Homo sapiens: one gene and its partners. The protein of the gene in region 4 purifies or fractionates together with the protein of the main gene of each other region. This does not show direct contact. Each region holds a gene or a part of one and is shown on either strand. Other genes may lie near its edges.

Region 1 (4,085 bases), on a different chromosome or scaffold from region 4:
AGATGCTGTCAACTTGTGACATTTGTTTATTATCCTTAGCAGATTTTCCATGTGCAATTCAGAGAGGCTAACTTGCCCAAACACACAGCTTAAAGTTAGACCTCAATCAGAGGCAGTTGGTTTCAGAAGCCAGGCTCTGAACCACATTAATATATCTGAAAAAAAACATGATTTCTCATGCAACTTCTATGATTACAACAACAACAACAACAATTCTGAGTAATGAGCTAGGTCCTATTACCAAGTAACACATCCTTTCCTTGCCTATCTCCCAGCCCAGGGATATTCCAGCTATGGAGTTTGGTGATCTGATTGTTTTCCATGTTCCTAACCGTCAAATCCTGATGTGATATTGGATTCAGACTAGAAATTATGAAGCAGGCACACAAAGCACCTTTATATATACCTCAATAACTTTTCCCCCAGAAACAAAGATATTTCTTGGCTGTTTCACTGAAACCTGAGGTTCTGTAGTTAGCTCATAGGGAAAAGTCAGTCACTATTAGAGTAGGTTGTTATCATCACCTTCTGTTCTTTTAACAATTGTCAAGTACTTTTCACATTTATCAATGTGTTCTTATCACATTCATTAACTGCTTCATACCAATATTTTTAAAATATTACTTGCTTATCCATGTATTTGAAGCTAAAACAATGATCACAATCAGATCTCTAGACAATGGTTGTAATGAATTTGTTCAAGAAAAGCATTCAAATTTGATGGAAAACTGAGCCTTTATAATTCATTCTAATTCTTCAACACAAAAATGAACTTTGGTAAATCAATAGGATCAACTGAGGCATTTATGCTTGAATGTGCTCCCCTAAGCTTAATGTATTTTTCCTCACTGCATTATATTTTAATGATTAATTTCATGCTCTTTCATGGTATTCTAGCTCATGAATCACGGGTATTACTTTGAGGGAAAAGTAAGGTGCTGTGAGTGATGAAAGATGTTACTGATTAAAGTGTTGCACATATGAACTACATAAGAGCTGAAGGTGTTTGAACACCAGCAATCTAGATTAAAAGTAATATTAGGCAAACTGGCCATATAGACTAAGGTTGAATTGAGTGGAGGGAGTGGGAAGGATGGGCTTCTTAAATGTTCTTAGTTGAAACAATATATGAAATCAAGCTTGGCATTCAATGTTTCACTGGCATCTTTCTCCTCAGTAGAATGTAAGAACTGATTTCGAAGACAACTGCAGAGAAAGAAATCAGTTAAGCAGATAACACACCATTCTGAAATTAAAGAGCCAAAAGCCACCCATCCTAAGTCAACTCCGATATCTTAAATCAATACTGCCTTAATACTGTCAGAAGCTTGTTTTTCGACTTAGTAAATAAAATTTTTTAAAAAGTTAAGTCAAAGTCACAAGGACCAAAAAGGAATAGACTACCCTAAATGAAATATAGAAAAAGACAAGTATCTATTATCCTGCACACAGATGAACAACTATTTGTTAAATATATCATATTGCTCAATATCAAAAAGTCAACTCTCCAAAACAGAAACCAAAAGTAAACTAACCAGAGATGTCCACATAATACACTTTGGCTCTTGTTACTAAAATGATTTTTCAAACCAAGTTATGGAGCCTGGAGAAAACAGGACTACTTCCTCCCAGAATATAAAGTTTCTTCAATTACGGAGGCAAAATGTGGCAAAAGCAGCTATTTTGCAAACAGGTGGTTTGCAAAACTTTTACTTAAGCCGCCAAAAGGACTGACGAAAGGAAAATTTTGTTATTTCTAAAGAAAACACACACACACATAATTTTCTACCAGAGTAGAAGACTCAAATAAAGAAAAGCCCCAAACAAAACAGAAAACTAAAAATCAGTTTGTCTTAGCTCAAAAGTGCTGACCTAGGTTTAGTATGTGTAAAATCACTGTTGATAATTAAATCCTTTTCATCGCATATATTAAGATACTAGAGAGAAAGGAAATGCCATGTCGTTTCAGGTAGGACCTTATTTACATAAAAAAAGATTTTTTTTAACAGAAACGGAGTGCAAGAGGGAATCAAAAACCGTTGAGAGGAGAGAAAAATACAGTTAGTTTTTCTGAGGGCACTGCATTTTTCATGTTCTGAATACTTCGTTCCATTCTCTCCATGTTAAATTATTTCATAAACAATACTATGACTAGAGGCGACTGCTACAGCTGACACACAGATGTTTTATTTCTATGCTTCACCTTTGCAAATAGCAGGATTCAGCTATTGGAAATGGGGGCAGTGGAGGTGTCCAGAAACGACATACAGGAGGTGAAGGGGTAGAACGTGTGGGAAATGGGCACTCCTACCCCCTAGAGTCCACCTCTCTGGAACTCCAGTGCTTCTTCAGTCACTGACATTCAGAGGAGGACAAGACAGGCTTCCTGAAATCTCTTCCGAAGTAAACAGGTCCCGACGCAAAGGGCAACCCCTCCAGTAGCGGAAAGTCCTCCCCTGAGCTCCCCGCCTGCCCACGCGGGCCTGTGGCTCCGCGCTCCTCCGCTCCCCCGCAGAGCTCCCACGGGGGAAACTTTCCCGCGTCTCTCACTCTCCGGGGTGCGGGGGCCGCGGGGGCCTCCCCGGCACCTACCCGCAGAGCACTCCCCACCACCCCGCCACCACCGACGAGCCGGCGCGAAGTCCGTACCTCGATGTCCGCCGAGTCCTTACTGAGCACAGGGGCCATGGCAGTGCCTACAGTCTCGAGTCTGCCAGTGACAAACCCTCCTTGCGTCCTCAAGCTCCAGCCAGAGAGCCAAGTGACAGCAGCCGGAGCGCGAGTCGAAAACAGGCAGACTAGGGCCGGCGGCGCGGGGGCGGAGCGGGCGCGGGGCGGCAACGCCCCCGGGGCGGGGCTGCGCTCTCGGTCCTGCGGCTCCCGCGCCAGGCACGGCAGCCGCAGCCCGGCCTTCCCAGTTCAGCCCGCTCCGCGCCCCAGCCTGCAAGCAGAAGGGAGGGAGGGAGTAGAGCACCCGCTCTGGGGACTGGCCTTTAATCTCTAAACTGCTAAAAACAGAGCTAGGCAGGCGGGGCCAGATAGGAGGGATCCCCAGGCAAAGGTAAAAGCAGTCCGCGCTCCAAGCAACAACTTGCACTTTTTCTTTTCTTCCACAGAAACCCCGCGAGATGTAGATACATTGTTTGAGGGGCAACTGCATTTTCAGGAACTCCTCAAGGATGAAATAGTAGATGTTCCTCCATCCATCCACCAAGTAGGTGGGCGGGGTTTGAGCTGCAGTGGAGGATACCAAAGCACCGGTCTTCTGAGAGTTCACAGCCCCAGCGGGGAGGGGAGGGAGGCGAGCAAAAACATCCACAGCCCGCAGCAGCATACAGGAAGTGCTGCAGGTGGTACATAATCAAGGTTGTCTTTTTGCAGGAAAGTCTCATTTTAATGGTTATTTTTTTAAATATTTTTTATTCTAAAACGTGAAACTCTTTTGAAAAGTTGCTCTTCGTTTTTGCTCTAGAGCTTGCTGAGGAGAAGGGAGAGATTTCCTGTAGAGTTGGTCCCAATCCAGAAAACATTCACCTCGTTTTTTGAGGATATGTGTACTCCAGACCTCTCTCCTTTTCTCCCCGCCCCCCCCCCACCCCTGTTAGATGCATCCCACCTCTCTTCTACCATAACACTTTCTACTTCCGTTAGGACATTTGCGGCACTCCTTCATGCACTTGGCTAGGTAGTGACACCTTGGAGTCAAGTATTTCTCCCTTATTATTTTTTCATTAGTCCATTCATCGTTTTATTCAACGAATATGTTTATTGAGCATTTTCAATATGCCAGACACAGACACTGTGCTAGGTTCTCCGGATATAGTCTTCAAGAATACACATCACTGTCATGGAGATTATACTCAAAATAAGCAAGTAAGAAAATGTGATGCCTGCTTGTAAGATAAAAGAAAAATAGGACAGAATAACTAGGGTATGGGTACCTTGCGTGGTTGAGAAGGCTTCTCTGAACAAACCATCAGATTACCTTCCAGAACCTGGAAATTACTAAAAGACAGATACATTTTTCTTGAATCAAATATTAACAGACACTAGAAAGTTAAATGGAAACCTTAGAATCATCTTTG
Region 2 (4,154 bases), on a different chromosome or scaffold from region 4:
GTTTCGACAGTTTTAATGGTACATATGTTATGCATTTTCCAATTATACAGTTATTATTAATGAATTCTCATTTCTGACATATCTCTTTTTCATTTCTTAGAACTCTTGGTTTTGAAACATGTAAAAAAGACTTTAGCAGGCTGGCACTGTAATTTGAATGATTATGTAAACAGTAAGGGAGTGCCTAGCAAATATTTGTTGAATAGTAATTTTACGAAAAGTTGCAGAGGTTTCTTTTGAGTTTTAGTTAAGAAGATCCGACCATCTCAGTGGAATAGAGGAAAGAACTCAGAGGCATGACTGCGAGGGTGTCCCAGAAAGACTACTGTGCCTTCTAGAAAAAAGACCCAGCACCCAAGTTCTAACTCTGAGACCCAGTCATATGTTTGGATCATAGCATTTCCAAGACCAAAATTTCCTCTTTAATAGTTTTTCTGAGAAACTGTCAGGTTTAACGTCAAGAAACATTTAGTCTGTGCTCATTAGGCCCACAGACATGACGAGCTACATGATTTGAGGGGCCCAGTCCAAAATAAAAATGCAGAGCCCCTTGTTCAAAACTTAAGAATTTCAAGACAGTGACGGAAGAGCATCAGCCAAATGAGGAGCCTTTTTAAGCACAGAGCCTTGTGTGGCTGCACAGGTCCCAAACCTATGAAGCTAGCCCTCTTCTGTGAAAGGCAAAAGGTCTGTAGCTAGGGAGAGAAGCTACAATTCAAATATGCACAAGGGGCTACAAGAACCCAGAGCTCCTAACTTTGTAAAAACATCACAGGGAAGGTGAGTTAAGCTCATTTTTGAGGGAGCAGCTGCATAGGGAAGAAAGATATTCCAGATTGAAGGACCAGCACTGAAGGTGGGCACAATTTACCTGACGTTCAGAAATACTGTAACTTTTAAGCAGGGTTGTGCCAGTGAACATGAGGGTGAGAACAGGTTGAGGCTGGAAAGGCAGGCAGAGGCCACATACATGGGAGAAGGGGTTGAACAATTACTGAGTGCCTCCTGTGTGCCAAGTTCTTTCTCTCCGACATTGTAAATACCACAATCTTGTAAATACTGGGTCATCCCTGTTTTACAAACAGGTTAATTTAGGCATCACACAGATTTAATGTTCAAAGGGTTTGGAACACTCTAGGGATCTAATAAATATTAATATTTGAAGAATTACTGGTGGGTCTGACTTAAGGCACACAACTCTTACCCTTTAGGCCAAGCTGCTCCTAAGAGTTCTTCTTAATCCCTCCAGTCGTTGTTTCTCTCATCTCTCAAGAGCCCCCAAATTACCCTTCCCTCCCTTAGCCACGCCCCCGCGTTTCACGTGCCGGAAATTAGGAGGAAAAGTACTTCCGGGATAGTAAAGGTCGGCCCGCGCAAGATGGCGGCCCCCTTGGAACTCAGTTGCTGGGGAGGCGGCTGGGGACTCCCATCGGTTCACAGCGAGTCCCTGGTGGTGATGGTGAGGCCGCCTCGCGGGCCAGGGCGCAGGAGGAAGGGGCGGGGCTGGAGGCGCCAGGCTGACTTGCCCCAGTTTCCCGCTGCGCTGCGGGGTCCAGGAGGGCCGAGCCGCTGCACGCTGCATTGCCCTGGGCTCCCTCCCACCGACGAGTCCCAACCTGGCCGATACCCCCGCCGAAGGCCGGCGGCGACATCAAGGCTTCTCCGCTTGGCTCCGAGTTTTGTCCGCCTCACAAAGCTGTCTGGGCGGTGGAGTGAAACCCCGAAGCAAGGGGCGCGCCCTCCCTACTCTGCATCCCCAGGACCTTTTGGGGAGCAAAGTCCTCGAAAGCCGGGTGGCTGGCGCCCGCGTCCCTACTTGAGATCACGGGGAGGGATGCGGCCTCAGTATCAGTCGCCTTCTGCCTTTGGGGGATGGGGCTGTGAAGTAAAGCTGCTCTGCAGCTTTGCATTACGCACTTGGTCTAAAATGTTTGATTGCAAACTCTGTTTCAGGCTTATGCCAAATTTTCTGGTGCACCCTTGAAAGTCAATGTGATAGATAACACCTGGAGAGGTTCAAGAGGTATAGTGTAAACCTTTACACTCCCCTTTCTGCACTCTTTTTTTTCTTCTTCCATTTAAAGCTGTGAGGTATATAGCTATAATATTGAGGATTTAGTTTCTTACCGTGACCTTGGCTCTGTGTTGTTTATGGTTTGATCATTCTGAGTAATACCTCAAAGTGCAAGCGAAATCACTGGAAATTATGAGAAACGAAAATGTTCTTTAGAACCGCTCTTTGTGAAACAGCAAAAAAACCAAGACAAGCTTACTCATTTTTTCCCCTCTAAATGTGCAACTGCTATAGTTTTTAGGATATTGGAATCTCTCAGAGGAAATCACACTGTGTCCTTGTATGTAAACTGTTTTTTGATTATAGGCGATGTACCAATTTTGACAACTGAAGACGACATGGTTTCTCAGCCAGCAAAAATACTAAACTTTTTAAGAAAACAGGTGGGTGGTTCACTTTGAAGAAGTAGATTGGTAGATTGTTGATCCCTGCATGTTGGGCTTTATTTTATTTATTTATTTTTTTTTGCCAACTCATTAGACAATTGGAGATACCTGGGACAAGATGTAAAAATAGATTTGAGAATCACTGCTCTAAAGCATGAGTTCTGTGATTTGAAAGTCATATGAAGAGGTAGTCAGTTTATATTTTAATAAACTTTGCTTGAATTTTATTGAAATTTGTATGTAAGTAGATTTAATTAGCCATTTTCACTATTAAACTTATTGATAGGATTGTGTATTTTGTCACATAGTTGGTACACATTTTGTGCTGGGCATGACACCTGAGCTCTCACCAACTAGCAACTATATTATTTTTAAAAAGCTCTTAATAGCAGTTTTATGGAATAATGTATCTAAATGTTTTAACAGTAGAGAATTATGTATCCAAAATGTTTAAACATGTAAAGATTTATATGAATGGATAAGTTATTTGTTTTGCCAATACTGTACTTAAAAAAATTGTGTCAATAACATTTTGAACTTTTATAAATTGGAAGGTTTTTTCTTTTGTCTTGGGGAGAAACACAGCCAATTGGAACTGTTTCCTTCTTGTTAAAAATAATAGTTGCTTTGTTTGTACTACATGCCATGCACTGAACTAGGTCATTAACAAGCATGAAAATAATAGTAGTTAATATTGTAACATTTATTGACCATATTGTGTATGTGATGCTGTGCTAAGAACTTTATGTGCATTAAGCAATAGGTTTCACTGGATTTGTATTTCTCTTTCTCCCATTTTAATACCACGTTTGCTATTTGTAAGGAAAAATATGAATCCTGATTTGATTAGTTTTACTGTCTTTGGGCTGCTCTTTGACTTCTGAGTTTCTTTGGTTTATTTTTTTTTAATAGAAATATAATGCTGATTATGAACTCTCAGCAAAACAAGGGGCAGATACATTGGCTTATATTGCTCTCCTCGAAGAGAAGCTTCTCCCTGCAGTGGTGAGTGTTCTTAAATATTACAGTATTTTAGTAGCCTAGTTGCAAATGTACATAGTCTGTTTAGAAAAAAACCAATGAGAAAAGTCTTAAGAGAAAATTTTACTTATATGTTAATCTTAATTCCTTCATATTACTGTGAAACTGGATTCTGTTAGGCATTCAACTAGTATGTGAAACAACAAAGTAAAATAAAATGTCATGTTGGAAATTCTTTGTGGGAGATGGATCTTTTTGCTCCATGTATAGAATTGGGTGTAATTCATTCATTCAACAAATGTTTATTGAACACCTGCTATGTGTCAGGCCTTGTTCTGGGTGTTTGGAAGATAGCAGTCAACAAAACTCACACATTTAAAATAATCTTGTTTTATCCTGAGTCATTCTAACTGGAAAATTTGTATGAAGACACTTCATATAAAGATATTTATGAAAAACTCTCATGTTGATTGAGTGATCTTTCATTTAATAAAAGAACATCCTTGTAGTGTTTTTTCTCTTCTTTTGCAGCTTCACACATTCTGGGTTGAGAGTGACAATTACTTTACTGTGACAAAGCCATGGTTTGCTTCACAAATTCCTTTTCCTTTGAGTTTGATCCTGCCTGGAAGAATGTCTAAGGGAGCACTGAATAGGATTCTCCTGACCAGAGGACAGCCTCCCCTCTACCACCTCCGAGAAGTGGAAGCACA
Region 3 (3,500 bases), on a different chromosome or scaffold from region 4:
GGCCAGGCTGTTCTCAAACTCCCGACCTCAAGCATTCTGTCTGCCTCAGCCTCCCAAAGTGCTGGGATTACAGGCGTGTGCAACCATACCCGGCCATTTTTGTATTTTTAGTGGTAATGGGTTTCATCATGTTGGCCAGGCTGGTCTCCAACTCCTGACCTCAAGTGATCCACCTGCCTTGGCCTCCCAAAGTGCTGGGATTACAGGCATGAACTCACTGTGCCCGATCTCAAAGAACTTTTGATTGGAGAGAATCATGGATGTAGAATATTTGTCATAAATATATAATGAAAACTTTAAAAAATGTATAATTAAAAAAATAATGAAAGAAGAAATAATTGTTGAGAAATTTATGAAAGGATATGAAAAATTAGCATATCCTTTACAAACCCAGATTGGCATTTAGAATTGAGGAAAGGTGTGTAACATCAATTTACTTATTTTGGTTAAGCAAATTCTATCAAATAATAATATGTGCAGTTAGTATCTCCTGTTCCACCTCGTAGCTGCTTTACCTAAACCATGCATTGACACGTACCTCCAAGGCCTCAAAGTGCCCACAGTGTGTGCTCCCACAGCATTAAAATGCACCCCCTTAACATTTTATTTATCACCCCCCACCACTATTCCAGGCCTGAAACAGTCTTATGAACTGTCCGTGAGGCACTTGTTTGCTGAAACAGTAACTGAGCTGAATTCTTGTGGTGGTTCCTATGAACACCCGGGAAGAAACAGCCAGCAGAGGCCGCCTGAGCCTGAACCGAGTTTCTCTTCCAGGTGCTGCGGTGTGTCGCGGGGTGCCCAGGCCTGGAGGAACTCTACCTTGAGTCTAACAACATTTTCATTTCCGAAAGGTAACTAGCACTTACTTAAATGCATCTATCCCCATTTAATCATCATTCTGAGTAAATAAATGGTCTCAATTATATCTAACCTTAATTTTTAGAAGGATTTGCAAACAAGAATTAGGAAAAATGCTTATTATTCATTGCCTTCACAAATTAGAATTTCACTAATTGGTTCTAATCAAAGGAAACTCATCAGAATTAAATATTTGTGAAGACATGAGTTATATTAGTTTTGCATCAGTGTATTAACTTGCTGTTTCTTTTTTTTCTTTTTCTTTTTTTGAGACAGAGTCTCACTCTGTCGCCCAGGCTGGAGTGCAGTGGCGATCTTGGCTCACTGTAACCTCCGCCTCCTGAGTTCAAGCGATTCTTCTGCCTCAGCCTCCCGAGTAGCTGGGATTATAGGTGCCTGCCACCATGCCCGGCTAATTTTCTTTATTTTTAGTAGAGACGGGGTTTCACCATCTTTTACGGGGTTTCACCATCTTGGCCAGGCTGGTCTCGAACTCCTGACCTTGTGAGCCACTGTGCCTGGCCAACTTGCTGTTTCTAAATGGAAGTTCTGTAGGATATGCTATAAGGATTAAATAATGTATTTTTCATTAGCATCATCTGTTTAAGGTCATTGTACCAAAGTACATGTAAAACTTTGTTCTCTGAAATATATTGTTGCCTCATCTCCTTTTTAAATTAATAATATTAAATTACTATGTAAAATTAACCTAACTGTGGGAAAATTTACAACAGATTCTGAATTAAAGGATTCAGAATCTTAAAGATTTTCGTTTACAGAAGGGTTTCATTATGTAGGCAAATGCAGGTTTTTTGTTTTGTTTTTTTTTTGAGATAGAGTTTCATTCTTGTCACCCAGGCTAGAGTGCAATGGCACCATCTCGGCTCACTGCAACCTCCACCTCCCTGGTTCAAGTGATTCTCCTGCCTCAGCCTCCCATGTAGCTGGGACTACAGGCACGTGCCACCATGCCTGGCTAATTTTTGTATTTTTAGTAGAGACGGGGTTTCACCATGTTGGCCCGGCTGGTCTTGAACTCCTGACCTCAGATGATCCACCCGCCTCGGCCTCCCGAAGTGCTGGGATTACAGGTGTGAGCCACCGTGCCTGGCCTGCAGGTTTTTTAAATTAAATTTTTTTATTTTGAGATAATCATATATTCACATGAAGTTTTATAAGAAATGATACACAGAGATCACTTGTACCCATGACCCAGGTTCCCCCATTGGTAACAAGTTGCAAAACTATGATATAGGATCACAGGCTAGGTGTGACACTGATACCGGCAGGAATATGTGCATCACCACAGGGACCACTCAGGTTGCCCCTTTACAGTCATATTTACTTGCTTCTTATCCCCAGCCCTCCATCGCACCAAATGCAGGGATTTTAAGGCTGTATCTTTGAAAACAATTAAGAGATAAATTCACGGTGAAAAAATTTTATTTTCCATACAGGCCAACAGATGTTCTCCAGACAGTCAAGTTATTAGATCTTTCCTCTAATCAATTAATTGATGAAAATCAGCTGTATCTGATAGCCCACCTGCCCAGGTAATTTGCCCCTAAATGCCTGATACAATAGTGTTCAGTCAATTCTTAGTGAAGCAGTTTTCATATGCTATGTATGCTTTCTCAATAGAAACGTGGTAACAATGATGGAATTTCTAAATTGAGTAATTCCCTTTGGGAAATTTTCATTTGAATTCATTTAGAAAATTTACTTGTGAACCCTGTATAATGTGGACTATGTCTGTACCAGATAATTTGAAGAATGAATAATTTGACCCTGGTGATAATGCGGAAAGTCTTCATTCATTAAACTCCGGGCAGTAGACCGTGTCTCTTTCCTCTGAGACGCATTTAGCACCTGACATAGCAGTAGGTACTCAAGAACCATTAGGTGACTATGGAGTCATTAGAATACAGGATAAAGAGTTCACTTTGCATGTCCTAAGTTGGACTTTATGGTTTCTAAGTATTTTACATGGGATTAAAAACCCAGGGTGTAGGAAAAAAATTTACAAACCGAGTCTGGTTGATACCCCATAGCATTTTACATTGTTCTGTGTAATCAAATTGTACATTTTGAATTTCAGGTTAGAACAATTAATCCTCTCTGACACTGGAATTTCTTCTCTACATTTTCCGGATGCTGGAATTGGTATATAAGATTAGTAAAGTTCCCCACTGCCCCCCCACACTATACTTCAGCTACTTTCACTTCTACTGTGTAACTTCATTCCTCTTTTTATAGGGTGCAAAACGTCCATGTTCCCATCCTTGAAGTACCTGGTAGTAAACGACAATCAGATATCACAAGTAAGAGCTGCTCGGAGTATGCCCAGCACACTGTTGCCTCTTTCCACTCTCATGGCAGAGTTTGGAGGTTCCTTCTACCAAAAAAGTAAAAAGAAATTTAAATCGAAAGAGAAATACCTCCTCAGAGTGAAACTCCTCATAAGAAGCCAAAAATATTAAGAAAGAAATTAGTTCACTTCACACTTAAGTGGACTTCACACTTAAATGGCACATTAATAGAGTAAAAGGGGCCGGGTGTGGTGGCTCAAGCCTGTAATCCCAGCACTTTGGGAGGTCGAGGCGGGCGGATCACCTGAGGTCGGGAGTTCGAGACCAGCC
Region 4 (3,500 bases):
ACTGAAGGAAGAAGGAAATAGGAGTTGCCTCCATTGTGCACGTTGCAAAACCTGTCTGGAAGGAGCATAGGAAATGGCTTTAGCTAAGTGCCAGTAGCTTCTTGCTGTTGCCACAGTTTCATTAGTGTTGATTCTCAATGTTGTCTGCTGATGTTGCTAAAGCAGCCACACAGTAGCATTACAAAGCCTGTGGGAATTTTAATAGCACCTTCATAAATATATTTAGTAGTATATGTAGAAATATGACCTATACAGCACTGGCTATCTATTAGATTCACCTGGGGAGCTTTTAAAGCACACATGCTCGGGTTCTACCTGCAGCCTACTGAATTAGAATCTCTGGGTGGGATGACCATCTATATTTTTAATAAAAGCTCCACAAGTTAATTCTGATGCACAGAAGATAGACGAACCATTACTTTAACATGACTCACCTTGTATTAGCTTATTCTCAAAGCTACTTTCCCATTCTTGAAATTGGATGATGGCTTTTTAGGTACGTGCCAGAGATAAATGGCCCAGAATATGTTGATTCTTTTAGATTGTTTTAGGCAGACTTTAAGTAGAGGGCTTAAATGCATGTTTGGTTTTGCCGATGCTTCACTATCTTTTTTAATTGGAGAGAGTGAAAATTGCTAAAAATTGCTGTCCAATAGAAATTTATGAGCCCATATGTAATATAAACTTTTTTACTAACCACATTAAAAAGATAGAAATGGTGAAATAAATTTTAATAATTATTTTTGGTTCATCTAATTTAATCCAATATATCTAAGATACTATCAGTATGAATTTTGTATAAAAATTGTTAATGAGGCCGGGCACAGTGTCTCCCACCTGTAATCCTAGCACTTTGGGAGGCTGGACATGGTGGCTCATACCTGTAATCCCAGCACTTTTGAGTGGCTGAGGTGGGTGGATCACTTGAGCCCAGGAGTTTGAGACCAGCCTGGGCAACACGGTGAAACCCCATCTCTACTAAAAATATGAAAAATAGGCAAGCATACTGATATGTGTCTGTAGTCCCTGCTACTTGGGAGGCTGAGGTGGGAGGATCACTGAAGCCTGGGAGGGGGGCTTGCGGTAAGCCGAGATTGTGCCACTACACTCCAGCCTGGGCGACACAGACCGTGTCTTTAAAAAAAAAAAAAAATTAATGAGATATTTTATATTCTTACTTGGAAGTCTTTGAAGTCTGGCATGCATTTAATACAGCACATCTGAATTCAGACTTACCACATTTTAAGTGCTCAGTAAGTACAAGTGGCTGCTGTTTGAATAGTGCAGATTTTGAAGCTGTGATTTTGGGTTGAGTTGAAGCTTTTTTCTTTCTGTGTATGCCCTTCACAGCCCCCAATTTTTCAACTTCAATTGCAAGAGGCCTCTTGGAAGAAGGAGTAGTAATTAACTCTTGATGGCCTAACTCAGGTCATTCTGCATTTTTTGGAAATAAGGTTCTAAATATTGATTACTATAGTTTCTTGAACATCATTTTAACAATTGTGTTTAACGTTCTAAACCTGAAACTGGCTAGCCATATGTAGAAAGCTGAAACTGGATCCCTTCCTTACACCTTATACAAAAATCAATTCAAGATGGATTAAAGATTTAAACGTTAGACCTAAAACCATAAAAACCCTAGAAGAAAACCTAGGCATTACCATTCAGGACATAGGCGTGGGCGAGGACTTCATGTCCAAAACACCAAAAGCAATGGCAACAAAAGCCAGAATTGACAAATGGGATCTAATTAAACTAAAGAGCTTCTGCACAGCAAAAGAAACTACCATCAGAGTGAACAGGCAACCCACAACATGGGAGAAAATTTTCGCAACCTACTCATCTGACAAAGGGCTAATATCCAGAATCTACAATGAACTCAAACAAATTTACAAGAAAAAAACAAACAACCCCATCAAAAAGTGGGCGAAGGACATGAACAGACACTTCTCAAAAGAAGACATTTATGCAGCCAAAAAACACATGAAAAAATGCTCATCATCACTGGCCATCAGAGAAATGCAAATCAAAACCACTATGAGATATCATCTCACACCAGTTAGAATGGCAATCATTAAAAAGTCAGGAAACAACAGGTGCTGGAGAGGATGTGGAGAAATAGGAACACTTTTACACTGTTGGTGGGACTGTAAACTAGTTCAACCATTGTGGAAGTCAGTGTGGCGATTCCTCAGGGATCTAGAACTAGAAATACCATTTGACCCAGCCATCCCATTACTGGGTATATACCCAAAGGACTATAAATCATGCTGCTATAAAGAGACATGCACACGTATGTTTATTGCGGCACTATTCACAATAGCAAAGACTTGGAACCAACCCAAATGTCCAACAATGATAGACTGGATTAAGAAAATGTGGCACATATACACCATGGAATACTATGCAGCCATAAAAAATGATGAGTTCATGTCCTTTGTAGGGACATGGATGAAACTGGAAACCATCATTCTCAGTAAACTATCGCAAGAACAAAAAACCAAACACCGCATATTCTCACTCATAGGTGGGAATTGAACAATGAGATCACATGGACACAGGAAGGGGAATATCACACTCTGGGGACTGTGGTGGGGTCGGGGGAGGGGGGAGGGATAGCATTGGGAGATATACCTAATGCTAGATGACACGTTAGTGGGTGCAGCGCACCAGCATGGCACATGTATACATATGTAACTAACCTGCACAATGTGCACATGTACCCTAAAACTTAGAGTATAATAAAAAAAAAAAAATTAAAAAAATAAAAAAAAACATATACCTATTGAAGGAAAAAAAAAAAAACACAAAAAAAAAACACTGGATTTTCTCCACCCTGAGAAATGAGGTCCTAAGGAAGTTAGAGCCTAAATGGTGTGGTAAGGTAGAGGTGGTGATTGCTTCCAGAGTCCTGTCCTTGAAGGACTGGCAAATGAGAACATGGATATATTCTAAAGTTGACTTTTTCTAGGCTACTGGAGAAGTGGCAAGAATGGAATCTTTTAGTGCAATGATCAACAAGTTAGAATGTCAAAGACTTGGGTGCCCTGGTAAAATGTAATGTTCTGTATAAAATCAAAATGTACAAAAACACACAGCCTTTCTGATGGCTGCTATATAGTGATACTTGGAGTTTAAATCCTGTACCAATTTTCAAATCTTAATAGCTGCTTTGCCATGTGTAAAATTAGTTTTCAGTATGCAAGAATATGAGAGACTAGAATAGTGTATTATTGTCATATCATAAGGGTTTTATAATTTGTCAGGTTATTTTATGTATCTTTTTGCTTCAGTACAATCATATGCTAGTGGCATAGAAGATTATTTCCCAGCTAGCTGTGGTAGCTCATGCCTATAATCTCCCAGCACTTTGGGAGGCCGAGATGGGAGAATTGCTTGAGCCCAGGAGTTAGAGACCAGCCTGAGCAACATAGTGAAATCCCATCTGTACAAAAATAATAATAATAAATTTAGCCAGTTACAGTGATGCACACCTGTAG
Region 5 (3,500 bases), on a different chromosome or scaffold from region 4:
AAATATACTAAAACTTACGTAATTGTATACTTTTTTTTTTTTTTTTAGACAGAGTCTCGGTCTGTCGCCCAGGCTGGAGTGCAGTGGCGGATCTCGGCTCGCTGCAAGCTCCGCCTCTCGGGTTCACGCCATTCTCTTGCCTCAGCCTCCCCAGTAGCTGGGACTACAGGCGCCCGCCACCACACCCGGCTAATTTTTTGTATTTTTAGAGACGGGGTTTCACCGTGTTAGCCAGGATGGTCTGGATCTCCTGACCTCGTGATCCACCCGCCTCGGCCTCCCAAAGTGCTGGGATTATAGGCATGAGCCACCACACCCTGCCCCTAATTGTATACTTTCAAAAGGCAAAAGTAAGAATATATGCACTGTCATGTGGAAAGATTTCTATCCAACATTCTTATTAAAAAAAAAAAAGTAAAGGAAAACTAGGAAGCTTATAAGTGATAAATCTTTGTTTTTTTGAGATGAAGTCTCACTCTGTCACCCAGGCTGGAGTGCAGTAGCATGATCTTGGCTCACTGCAATCTCCACCTCCAGGGTTCAGGCGATTCTCCTGCCTCAGCCTCCCAAGTAGCTGGGATTACAAGCGTGTGACACCACGCCTCGCTAATTTTTGTATTTTTAATAGAGATGGGGTTTTGCCATGACGGCCAGGCTGGTCTCAAACTCCCGACCTCAGGTGATCTGCCACCTCGGCCTCCCAAAGTGCCAGTATTACAGGCGTGAGCCACTGCGCCTGGCCTAAAAGTGATAAATCTTAAAGAGCTAAAAGTGATAAAACCTCTACAAATTGTTTTCCAGAACAACTCATTCCTACTGGTTCCAAAGAAACATTGTATTATGTAATGAGGTTATGTGCTGTATGCATCTTTCCTGCCCACTGCTTTCCTTTTAATGTGGAGAGGAAATAATGCCCAAGTATCACGAGTCCCCTACAAAAGCTGTATTATTTTAAAGCAAATAAACTGCCCTTTTCTGATCTCAAAAATTTTCTGGCGTTATCACAATTCAGAAAGAAACATTCCAAATTTGGGTGTCCAAAATAATTTCAAATATCCAGAGCCATAAAACTTGAATGACTCAATGACGACATGGAAAAACTGAAACCTAAACATAGAATGAGTGCCTATCAAATTATGGCCTTCACTTTTAAAAGCCATCATAATACCTCTGTAATTCCTTACTAGTGCAGAGAGAATACAAATGCTCCTCTGCACAGCATTTGCTATGGAACTCTCATAATCTTTTACATGAACTGGGATTATGCATTCTATAGGACAGAAGCCAAGTTCCACACTTAAAAACACTTATTCTAATCGTTAAATTCTTTTTTTTTTAAATAAAAAAAGAAAAGAAACCCTAGGTTTCTGTATTTTACTTTTTCAGATTTACAAATGCAAATCATATATTAATATTCACAGATATTTTTAAATGGGAAAACAACTTACTTTCAACAACTTATTTTTTCCAACAGCATGTTACTATGTTAAAAAAGATTTGACATTATAAGCCGAGCGTGGTGGCTCAGGCCTATAATTTTGGGAGCATTTTGGGAGGCCGAGGTGGATGGATCACCTGAGGTCAGGAGTTCCAGACCAGACTACCAACATGGCGAAACCCTGTCTCTATTAAAAATACGAAAATTAGCTGGGTGTGGTGGCAGGCACCTGTAATCCCAGCTACTTGGGAGGCTGAGGCAGGAGAATTGGTTGAATCCAGGAGGCGGAGGTTGCAGTGAACCAAGATCACGCTACCACACTCAAGCCTGGGCAACGGGGAGACTCCATCTCAAAAAAAAAAAAAAAAAAAAAGAGATTTGACAGTACATTCATTTAATCTGGCAATTTTAATTTGAACAAATACCTATTAACAACAAATTAAATCCTATTGCACATGAATTATTTGTTGCACCACCACCAGATTTTCTAATTCTAGCAGAGGCCACGATGAAATAGGCCAGACATGCTGCCATTAAAGTTTGCTGGGATGATTGTAATAAATCTACTGAAAGTATTCAAGTTCTAACTTTCAAAGTGATGTAGAGAAACATAAAAGATTTCACTGTATCATCTAAAAATATAACTGTTTTGTCTGATCATTAAATTCTGATTTGCATTTACTCTTTGTATATATTCTAGAAGAAATCCTTCTAAAACATTTAATTAATCATACCCAGTTCCAAAGAAACCGTGAGTCAAAAGGGAAAGACAAGAAGAATTAGACACAGAGTAAACATGTAGAGAACATGTTTTGCTGAATTCAAATGCTTTTGCACAAGTATGGTGAGTGTCCTTTATTCCCAGCACGGGATGAAAAACAGGACAGGAAGCTAAGAGAGGTCTTGAATTTGGGTTAACTTAATTATTTGGTTTAAGATTAATTTTGGAATGAGATACAAAAAAAAAATTTTAAGTTTAAATTACCTAATTTTAATTTGATTACCTATTTTACCTGTTTTAAACTGTCTATTTTATATTATTCATGCCTCTGTATCTTCCTTATTTGGATAAAAATTCAACTTCCTGGCCGGGTGCAGTGGCTAACACCTATAATCCCAGCATCTTGGGAGGCCGAGGCAGATGGATCATCTAAGTTCGGGAGTTTGAGACAAGTCTGACCAACATGGAGAAATCCCATCTCTGCTAAAAATACAAAATTAGCCAGGCATGGTGGTGCATGCCTGTTAATCCCAGCTACTCGGGAGGGTGAGGCAAAAGAATAGCTTGAACTCAGGAGGCGGAGGTTGCGGTGAGCCAAGATTGCGCCATTGCATTCCAGCCTGGGCAACAAGAGTGAAACTTCATCTCAAAAAAAAAAAAAAATTCAACTTCCTATAAAAAACTAAGCTCTGAAATAAGCCGGAGATTCTAAATCTTTCAACACAAATCTGAGAGACTAAACCAAGTCCAGCCAAACCTAATCTGTTGCTGTCCCTCTCTGCCTCAAACTAAATAGTTTCACCAAAGCCTAAAGGCTATAAGCCAAATTTATGAACATGACTCTCTCCTTCTCCAGCTTTATCATCTCTGGGCATTCTCCCTCACTCCCTCAGATGAAGAACGGCTGGACTGTATATATATGTACACAGTATGTGTGTGTATTTATACCCTTTTTTTGTATTTATGTTTCACACACAAAAAAATTATTTTGGCCGGGCACGGTGGCTCATGCCTGTAATCCCAGCACTTTGGGAGGCCAAGGTGGGTGGATCATGAGGTCAGGAATTTGAGACCAGCCTGGCCAACATGGTGAAACCCCGTCTCTACTAAAAATACAAAAATTAGCTGGGCGTGGTGGAGCACGTCTGTAGTCCCAGCTACTCAGGAGGCTGAGGCAGGAGAATCGCTTAAACCCGGGAGGCGGAGCTTGCAGTGAGCCAAGGTCGCGCCACTGCACTCCAGCCTGGGCGACAGAACAAGACTCTGTCTCAAAAAAAAAAAAAAAAAAAAAATCTTAAAGAAGAAACATAAGAGATTTGTTTGTGAAAAGCTGAAACAAAT
Region 6 (3,500 bases), on a different chromosome or scaffold from region 4:
AAGTCTCAACAATACAATCATTGTTAAGAGTAAAAAGCTGCAATTAGCACTAATGAACAAGAAAGACCGAATCAAATGCTGGGTTTCTAGATGAGCATCGTTTGGATTTGGGCCATAATTTTAACAGAGGAGACATTCACATTTGTCCTTGCCCTTGTTCATATTTTTCTTTCCTGTGCTGTTTTATTGATCTGTCTTGAGGTGGCCGTTCTCTTCCCTGTGTCTTTGCATTCTTGCGGCCTGTATATGGCTTTTCTCTCCAATGTACAGGAAGCAGGTAGTGAGCCCCTGAGCTTAGCTCTAGCACTGCCCTGCTTGTTTGTAGCCATTAACTTGAACTTATTCTGGTCTATATGCCACTGGGGGACTGGCCATTATTCTATTAGAAGATAAGGGCTGTAAAGCAGCACAGGCGTTGAATGATCCTTTTTAAAATCCCAGTGGGACATTTAGGATGACAGTAGGAACTACCCTTTTATCTGCCTTGGGAAAGGAGTAGAAAGAAATGTTAGTAAAACCCACCCTGGAGTCTTGGCACAGAGCTAGCCCCCTCCAGTATCCATTCCTCTAGGGTATCTGAAATTCACTAAAAGTCTCTCCTATCAGAGATGATCAACCTTTTTACATATTTACAAAACACAGCTAGAGAGTTGTTTGATAAAGCGTATAACTTTGCATGCAGAGGCTTATTCACATGGCTCTACCCATCCCTTTTTTTTCCCCTCAGTATAGTATTGTCTTCCTTATTCTTCTTTCTTTTTTTAAAAATTCAATTATGAACACCTTTCTCTTTCTACGAATTTATATTCTATTGATACAGCCCCCTCCATGAGAAGTCCAGAAGAGGTACCTATTTTGCAATTTTCAGAGAATAGGGGTCAGTCCTTATCTTAAAAAACCATGTTTTAGCCTTAGAATCATCATGGCAGGTTTCTCAAATACTGATGACCCCACCCATTACTGGGAAAGAATCTCTCAGTGCGGGGGCTGGCATCTGTACTATGATGAAGCTACCTTGGTGATTCTGATGTGTACCTCTGGTTAAGAATCTCGATGTTCAAACAGGCTCCTTGAGGGAGGGGAGGGAGGGAGAGACCTCAACTTTGCTCATGCTGTGTTCTCAGTGCCAGCACAGTGCCCGGCATAAAAAAGACGCCTAATGCCCCTCTGAGGCTTTATTTCCTTAGCTTCCAGGACATGTCTGCTACAGAGTGGGTGCTCAAAAAATATTGAATTATTTGTGACTTTTAAAAAACTTGGATATTAAAAAATTTACAACTGGCTGGGCATGGTGGCTCACACCTGTAATCCCAGCACTTTGGGAGGCAGAGGCGGGTGAATCACCTGAGGTCAGGAGTTCTAGACCAGCCTGGCCAACACGGTGAAACTCCATCTCCACTAAAAATACAAAAATTAGCTAAGTGTGGTGGCACGTGCCTATAATCCCAGCTACTTGGGAGGCCGAGAGGTGAAGGTTGCAGTGAGTCAGGATCACGCCGCTGCACTCCCGTCTGAGTGACAGAGCGAGATCTGTCTCAAAAAAAAAAAAAAAAAAAAATTACAACTCCTGCTGAAATGTCAAATCTCAACCTTGGCCTGAACTTGGGAAAAGACAAGGTTTTTTTTTTTGTTGTGGTTGTTTGTTTGTTTTTGTTGTTTTTTTTTTGATTGCTTAATGGGGATCTGATATTACATGGGGATCTGATATTTGCATTTAATTAAAAAACCCACATTTTAATGAATCATAGTAAACTGGTTTTCTTTATAAATCTTGGCAATTTACTCACCATGTACAGCTGACTCACTTTATCTTGACACTTGACATAGGCTTCGTAGTCTGCAAAGACTTTAAACCTTTTATTTTGTGAGTGGAAGAGGAAAAAAACAGTCAAAATCTTCATTAATAGATATATGCTAAAATTCCATGTAAAATCATCTTTTGCTTAATATCAGGCATGGCTGGTTTACCAAATTCATATTTCTGTTTGTAAGACTTTTAACCAGCCCTCAACCTTCTTATGGTTCTCACATGTGAGAATGTCATCACTGGGATGCATTTGGAAGTTGGGAATATCAGTGGAAGGAGAAAAAGAGAACCAGATTTGTGTGTGTTATTCTTAAACCTTACTGGCATCGCTGGTGGAGAATATCTAACTTTTTCCCCAAGCCTAAACTACCTGAGCAGATCACGCTAATCTATGCTAATCTACATGAGTGGGTTTAAGTTGGTTTAAGATTGGTTTAAGATTTTCTTGTTGGTTTTAGAGTTGGTTGGTTTAAGATTTTCTTGTCCCCCTTTCATGATCCAAATAGCACCATCTTCTTATGGGAACTCACCTGTCATGATAAAATAGCATGTTGATGATATCTTTGAAGAGGTCAGGCTGCTTGGGAGAAAAAAAGCCATTGTCAATTTGATCAATGACCAGCTTCAGCTCTGGAAGTGCCTCATAGTATTCTTTTGCCTCGTACCTGTGGGGTAGGGGTGGGTGGGTGATAAAAAAAGGCTCTGTTATTGTGTTGTGTGATTAACAACACACTAGACACTGCATTCACTGTGAAAAAATACATTCAGAAATACTAGCATTCAAAGACTTCATTATAGATTTCACCATGAGTATATATAACTTTTAACTAGATCTGTAAGTTTTTCTTCCTGTAAATTTGATTCCTTATAACCAAAGACACTAAGAACAATAGATAATGAAAACTCTAGTCAAACATCAAGAGTCTGATGTGGTAGAATACAGCAAGGTCCATTTCAAAGCAGACTTTATGGCTTTAAATGAACATTGTATTAAGTAGATCAGTTGCTTTTTGGATCCACAGATTCTCAAAAGTTGTTGCTACTGAGTGAAACTGACTTCCAAGGGTCAGGAAGTATATTCAACATCCTCCAAATGTTACTTCTTTGGGCAGTACTCTTTATTTTGTGCTTGAACTCAGGTTAATAAACCCATCCAGATATGAAGTGAAAATAAATGTTTCCAATTACTTCTGTACACCCGTATCTATTCTCTATCACATTTTAGTGCATTTCTTTGATATCTTAAAGGAGCACTAGATCATGATTTAAATTATAGGCAACCCTTCCAACTAGAAACTGGTTCATCTTTTGATCAAAGTAAAAATCATACATACGGAGGAAAAATAGCTCTTTGAGGCCAGCTCTGCAATGGCCGATAACAAATAGCAACTCCTCCATGTGTCTGTACTTTTATTTGCTGGGTTTAATAATATTAATCTGTGGCCAGGAGGCTCTCCTGCCTCATCGTGGGAGATGTTCTGCTGCCACCTCTTATGTGATCCAATTTCAGTGGGATATCGGTGTGGGCAGGAAGCCCTCTGAGGTCACATACCTTCTAGGGGGGAGGGGCAGTCCTGCCTAGCAAAGAGAAGCTATTCTCTTACCCTTTCTTGTCCAAAGCAGCCACATCATCTATCCTCATGCCAAAGATGAACAGGTTCTCTTCCCCAGCTTCTTCTGCCATTTCCACATT
Region 7 (2,857 bases), on a different chromosome or scaffold from region 4:
GATTCTCCTGCTTTGGCCTCCCAAAGCACTGGGATTATAGGCATGAGCCACTGCACCCAGCCTCAAAATAGTTAAAAAAATTAAACCCTTCTTTTAACTTCTATATCTACCTCCTTAATTGGCTATATTGCCCTAAGATATTCCATTATATTAACTTTAAAAAAAAAAAAACCTATATGTATTTTTGCATACCTTGCAATAATATCCCTCATCACAAATCTGCCTTAATCTTTATAACAGCTGTATCCTCGTTTGGATCTCAGGTACAGCCCCAACATGACAATTTATTGCTCATCTGTTCATTCCTACCCTTTTTCCTGTAAGTGCTCCATTTTCATAAAATCTTATTTTTCACTCTGATGATGGTTGCTATGCTTGTGGCCTTCCTGCAGGCTCTTGTGAGGACTGAATGTGAGGCTTTGCTTACCAGCTCTTTCTAAAATATATAAATAGCCCAGAGAGTCTTCTAAAATTGGGGGCTCAAATCCACAAATGACATGTTATTTGAAAATACTGGATTTAATAGAAAATATCACATTGTAAACAAATCCATTGATCCATGAGCTTAAAACAGAATGACGGCACAATCACATAGAAAAGCTAAAGACAAAACACTGGTACCAAACATAGCCCTTAGGCCTGGGCTAGGCTCTCAAAGGTCTTTCCCAGAAATGGAGGCAGCAGTAGCTTCAAACAGGCACAAAAACAGCCAGGAGGAGGCAGCATCCACTCCATGAAGGCCTAAGACAATGAAAGGAAGCCAGAGCAACAGACCACCTTGGGATCCGGGGAGAAGGGTAAATGGGCAAAAGGGTTGTATTTCCTGATGCTCTCAGAACATCAGACCACACCATGTGAATTTAAGCAGGACTATTTTAAGTGGGGAAACAATACTAGAAGCATTTGGTGTATTTTCCTGGCACTCACCTCCTAGGTAAGCAGGAGAGCGGGACACTCAGGAGTTGTGACTAAACTCACACTTAAGCTGCCTGCCCAGACCGTCCCCTTGGCTGAACACAACACTGAAATTGTGGCAGTGTCTGTTGCCCCAGTGGACCTCCCACTTACTAATGAGTATGTAAAACAGAGGAGCCACAGTGAGGCTTTCACAAAAACACAGGGCTCTGGGGGAAAAACGGCTTCCACCTTCTGCCTTTTGGTGCTGGAGAGTCCCTGAGGGAGAGAAGTTTGACGTGGCTGGGCCCCTTGAGGCTCTGGATTTATCAATAGAAGCCTCCTCTTTGGCCCCACCCACCCAAATCCACCCCCAGGTTCTCCTAGTTCAGAGAAAAGCTGTGAAAGTGGAAGAAGGAAGGGATCGTTTTCTTTCCATTGCACTTGTTACTGACCAAAGAGACTGCTTCCTTGCACTTATTTTAGATATTGAGAGTTTGTGCCTTCACTTGGAACAATGGTTCTCAACCAAGGGGCAGGCCTGTGCAAGAAGGACTCTCAAGACTCTTCAAAGAGGTGGTATCCAATATACATAAGCCCCTAATTCCCTCCCACTTGAAAATCAGTGCGTGTAAGGAGAGAAATTCCTGACGGGAGTGTGTCATATGTGTGAACCATGGCTGAAGCAGAACAAAAAGTTTAAAACTCCCAACCTGGGTTTGGCAGACATCAAAATGATGGAGTACATTTTGCAGATATTTTTTTTCTGATTAAGTTACAAACATTCTCCCTATAGCTAAACTCCGTGACTAGGCTCCCAGCCTCATGGCCAAGAACAATAAGTTCACCCACTTATCTGGAGTAACCATACTAGATTAAAGAAATACAATTCTTTCTTCTAAAGACAATTTCCAGAAAGACCTGCCTTTCCCTATGGGTACTTGACACTAGGTCCCAGCACAGGCTAATCGCTGTATGGTTTCTTCGAAGATTGGCTTTTCTCAGTTTCTTTCTCTTTGATACTGTACAAGGGGTCCACCAACTTGTTATGAACAAGCATTAAACCTACAAAAAATTAAAAACAAAAAGTAGTTAATTCAGGCAGTGGCAAGAGTTCCTTGATTATCAATCATAACATCCAGGAGCTCTCAAATTTTGTCTTAGAGCTGACACTTCTCTCTTTTCTCTATGATCCCCAAATGATAAACACCCTAAGAGTATAAAAAGAGTTATTCACAGTGAGTACTACATTCATGGAACTTTTATAAATTCAATCACTATGGGAGTTGGCTATTTAAAGGTTAGTCTTTTCAGCAAAGGACAAATTCCTAATTGACCTACTTGAGTAAAAGAGGATTTTCACATGTTTGCCTAAAGCAGTGTGCATCCTTTTAAAGTAAAAGAAGGGCTGGGCATCGTGGCTCACACCTATGATCCTAGCACTTTGGGAGGCCGAGGTGGGTGGATCACCTGAGGTCAGGAGTTTGAGACCAGCCTAGGCAACATGGCAAAACCCCGCCTCTACTAAAAATACAAAAATTAACTGGGTATAGTGGCGGGCACCTGTAATCCCAGCTACTTGGGAGACTGAGGCAAGGAGAATCACTTAAGCCCGGGAGGTGGAGGTTGCAGTGAGCTGAGATCACACCACTGCACTCCAGCCTGAGCGACAGAGTGAGACCCTGTCTCAAAAAGAAAGAAAGTAAATAAAAGAAAGGAATCGCTTGTTTAAGATTTGAAAAGAGAAAACCTGAGGCTTAATGGCACTGTGAGGTCACCACATAGTCCTTGGACCACATTGCGTTTTCTTTCCTCCTCCTCAGAGCAAACAGATCTCCAGAAATGGATCTTTGCAGTCACAGGCAGAAGAGAAATGACTGTGTAGTGTGATGCAGTTGGGTTTGATATTTCTTAAGATTACAGTTGTCAATTAAAATGACCAGAGGATGAAAGCTGGATCTAC

What was found.
Region 1: the proteins of TRNT1 (region 4) and DPYD fractionate together in Homo sapiens (co-fractionation; one large-scale study listed by BioGRID). This does not show direct contact.
Region 2: the proteins of TRNT1 (region 4) and MTX3 purify together in Homo sapiens (affinity purification with mass spectrometry; one large-scale study listed by BioGRID and IntAct). This does not show direct contact.
Region 3: the proteins of TRNT1 (region 4) and TBCE fractionate together in Homo sapiens (co-fractionation; one large-scale study listed by BioGRID). This does not show direct contact.
Region 5: the proteins of TRNT1 (region 4) and CLNS1A fractionate together in Homo sapiens (co-fractionation; one large-scale study listed by BioGRID). This does not show direct contact.
Region 6: the proteins of TRNT1 (region 4) and PYGL fractionate together in Homo sapiens (co-fractionation; one large-scale study listed by BioGRID). This does not show direct contact.
Region 7: the proteins of TRNT1 (region 4) and GNPDA1 fractionate together in Homo sapiens (co-fractionation; one large-scale study listed by BioGRID). This does not show direct contact.

The regions. Positions count from the first base shown.
Region 1 is NC_000001.11:97,918,235-97,922,319, forward strand, and holds the start of DPYD (dihydropyrimidine dehydrogenase [NADP(+)]), read right to left. Parts: upstream 2,801-4,085; 5' UTR 2,689-2,800; coding exon 2,650-2,688; intron 1-2,649.
Region 2 is NC_000005.10:79,988,463-79,992,616, reverse strand, and holds the start of MTX3 (metaxin-3), read left to right. Parts: upstream 1-1,354; 5' UTR 1,355-1,378; coding exon 1,379-1,459; intron 1,460-1,953; coding exon 1,954-2,023; intron 2,024-2,380; coding exon 2,381-2,457; intron 2,458-3,372; coding exon 3,373-3,465; intron 3,466-3,972; coding exon 3,973-4,154.
Region 3 is NC_000001.11:235,433,427-235,436,926, forward strand, and holds part of TBCE (tubulin-specific chaperone E), read left to right. Parts: intron 1-777; coding exon 778-854; intron 855-2,318; coding exon 2,319-2,414; intron 2,415-2,959; coding exon 2,960-3,024; intron 3,025-3,117; coding exon 3,118-3,182; intron 3,183-3,500. UniProt on the Homo sapiens protein: Tubulin-folding protein; involved in the second step of the tubulin folding pathway and in the regulation of tubulin heterodimer dissociation.
Region 4 is NC_000003.12:3,129,940-3,133,439, forward strand, and holds part of TRNT1 (CCA tRNA nucleotidyltransferase 1, mitochondrial), read left to right. Parts: exon of another isoform or gene 1-740; intron 741-3,500. UniProt on the Homo sapiens protein: Nucleotidyltransferase that catalyzes the addition and repair of the essential 3'-terminal CCA sequence in tRNAs, which is necessary for the attachment of amino acids to the 3' terminus of tRNA molecules, using CTP and ATP as substrates. tRNA 3'-terminal CCA addition is required both for tRNA processing and repair.
Region 5 is NC_000011.10:77,631,295-77,634,794, forward strand, and holds part of CLNS1A (methylosome subunit pICln), read right to left. Parts: intron 1-3,500. UniProt on the Homo sapiens protein: Involved in both the assembly of spliceosomal snRNPs and the methylation of Sm proteins.
Region 6 is NC_000014.9:50,906,484-50,909,983, forward strand, and holds part of PYGL (glycogen phosphorylase, liver form), read right to left. Parts: coding exon 3,412-3,500; intron 2,473-3,411; coding exon 2,338-2,472; intron 1,855-2,337; coding exon 1,788-1,854; intron 1-1,787. UniProt on the Homo sapiens protein: Allosteric enzyme that catalyzes the rate-limiting step in glycogen catabolism, the phosphorolytic cleavage of glycogen to produce glucose-1-phosphate, and plays a central role in maintaining cellular and organismal glucose homeostasis.
Region 7 is NC_000005.10:142,000,171-142,003,027, forward strand, and holds the end of GNPDA1 (glucosamine-6-phosphate deaminase 1), read right to left. Parts: intron 1,960-2,857; coding exon 1,859-1,959; 3' UTR 501-1,858; downstream 1-500. UniProt on the Homo sapiens protein: Catalyzes the reversible conversion of alpha-D-glucosamine 6-phosphate (GlcN-6P) into beta-D-fructose 6-phosphate (Fru-6P) and ammonium ion, a regulatory reaction step in de novo uridine diphosphate-N-acetyl-alpha-D-glucosamine (UDP-GlcNAc) biosynthesis via hexosamine pathway.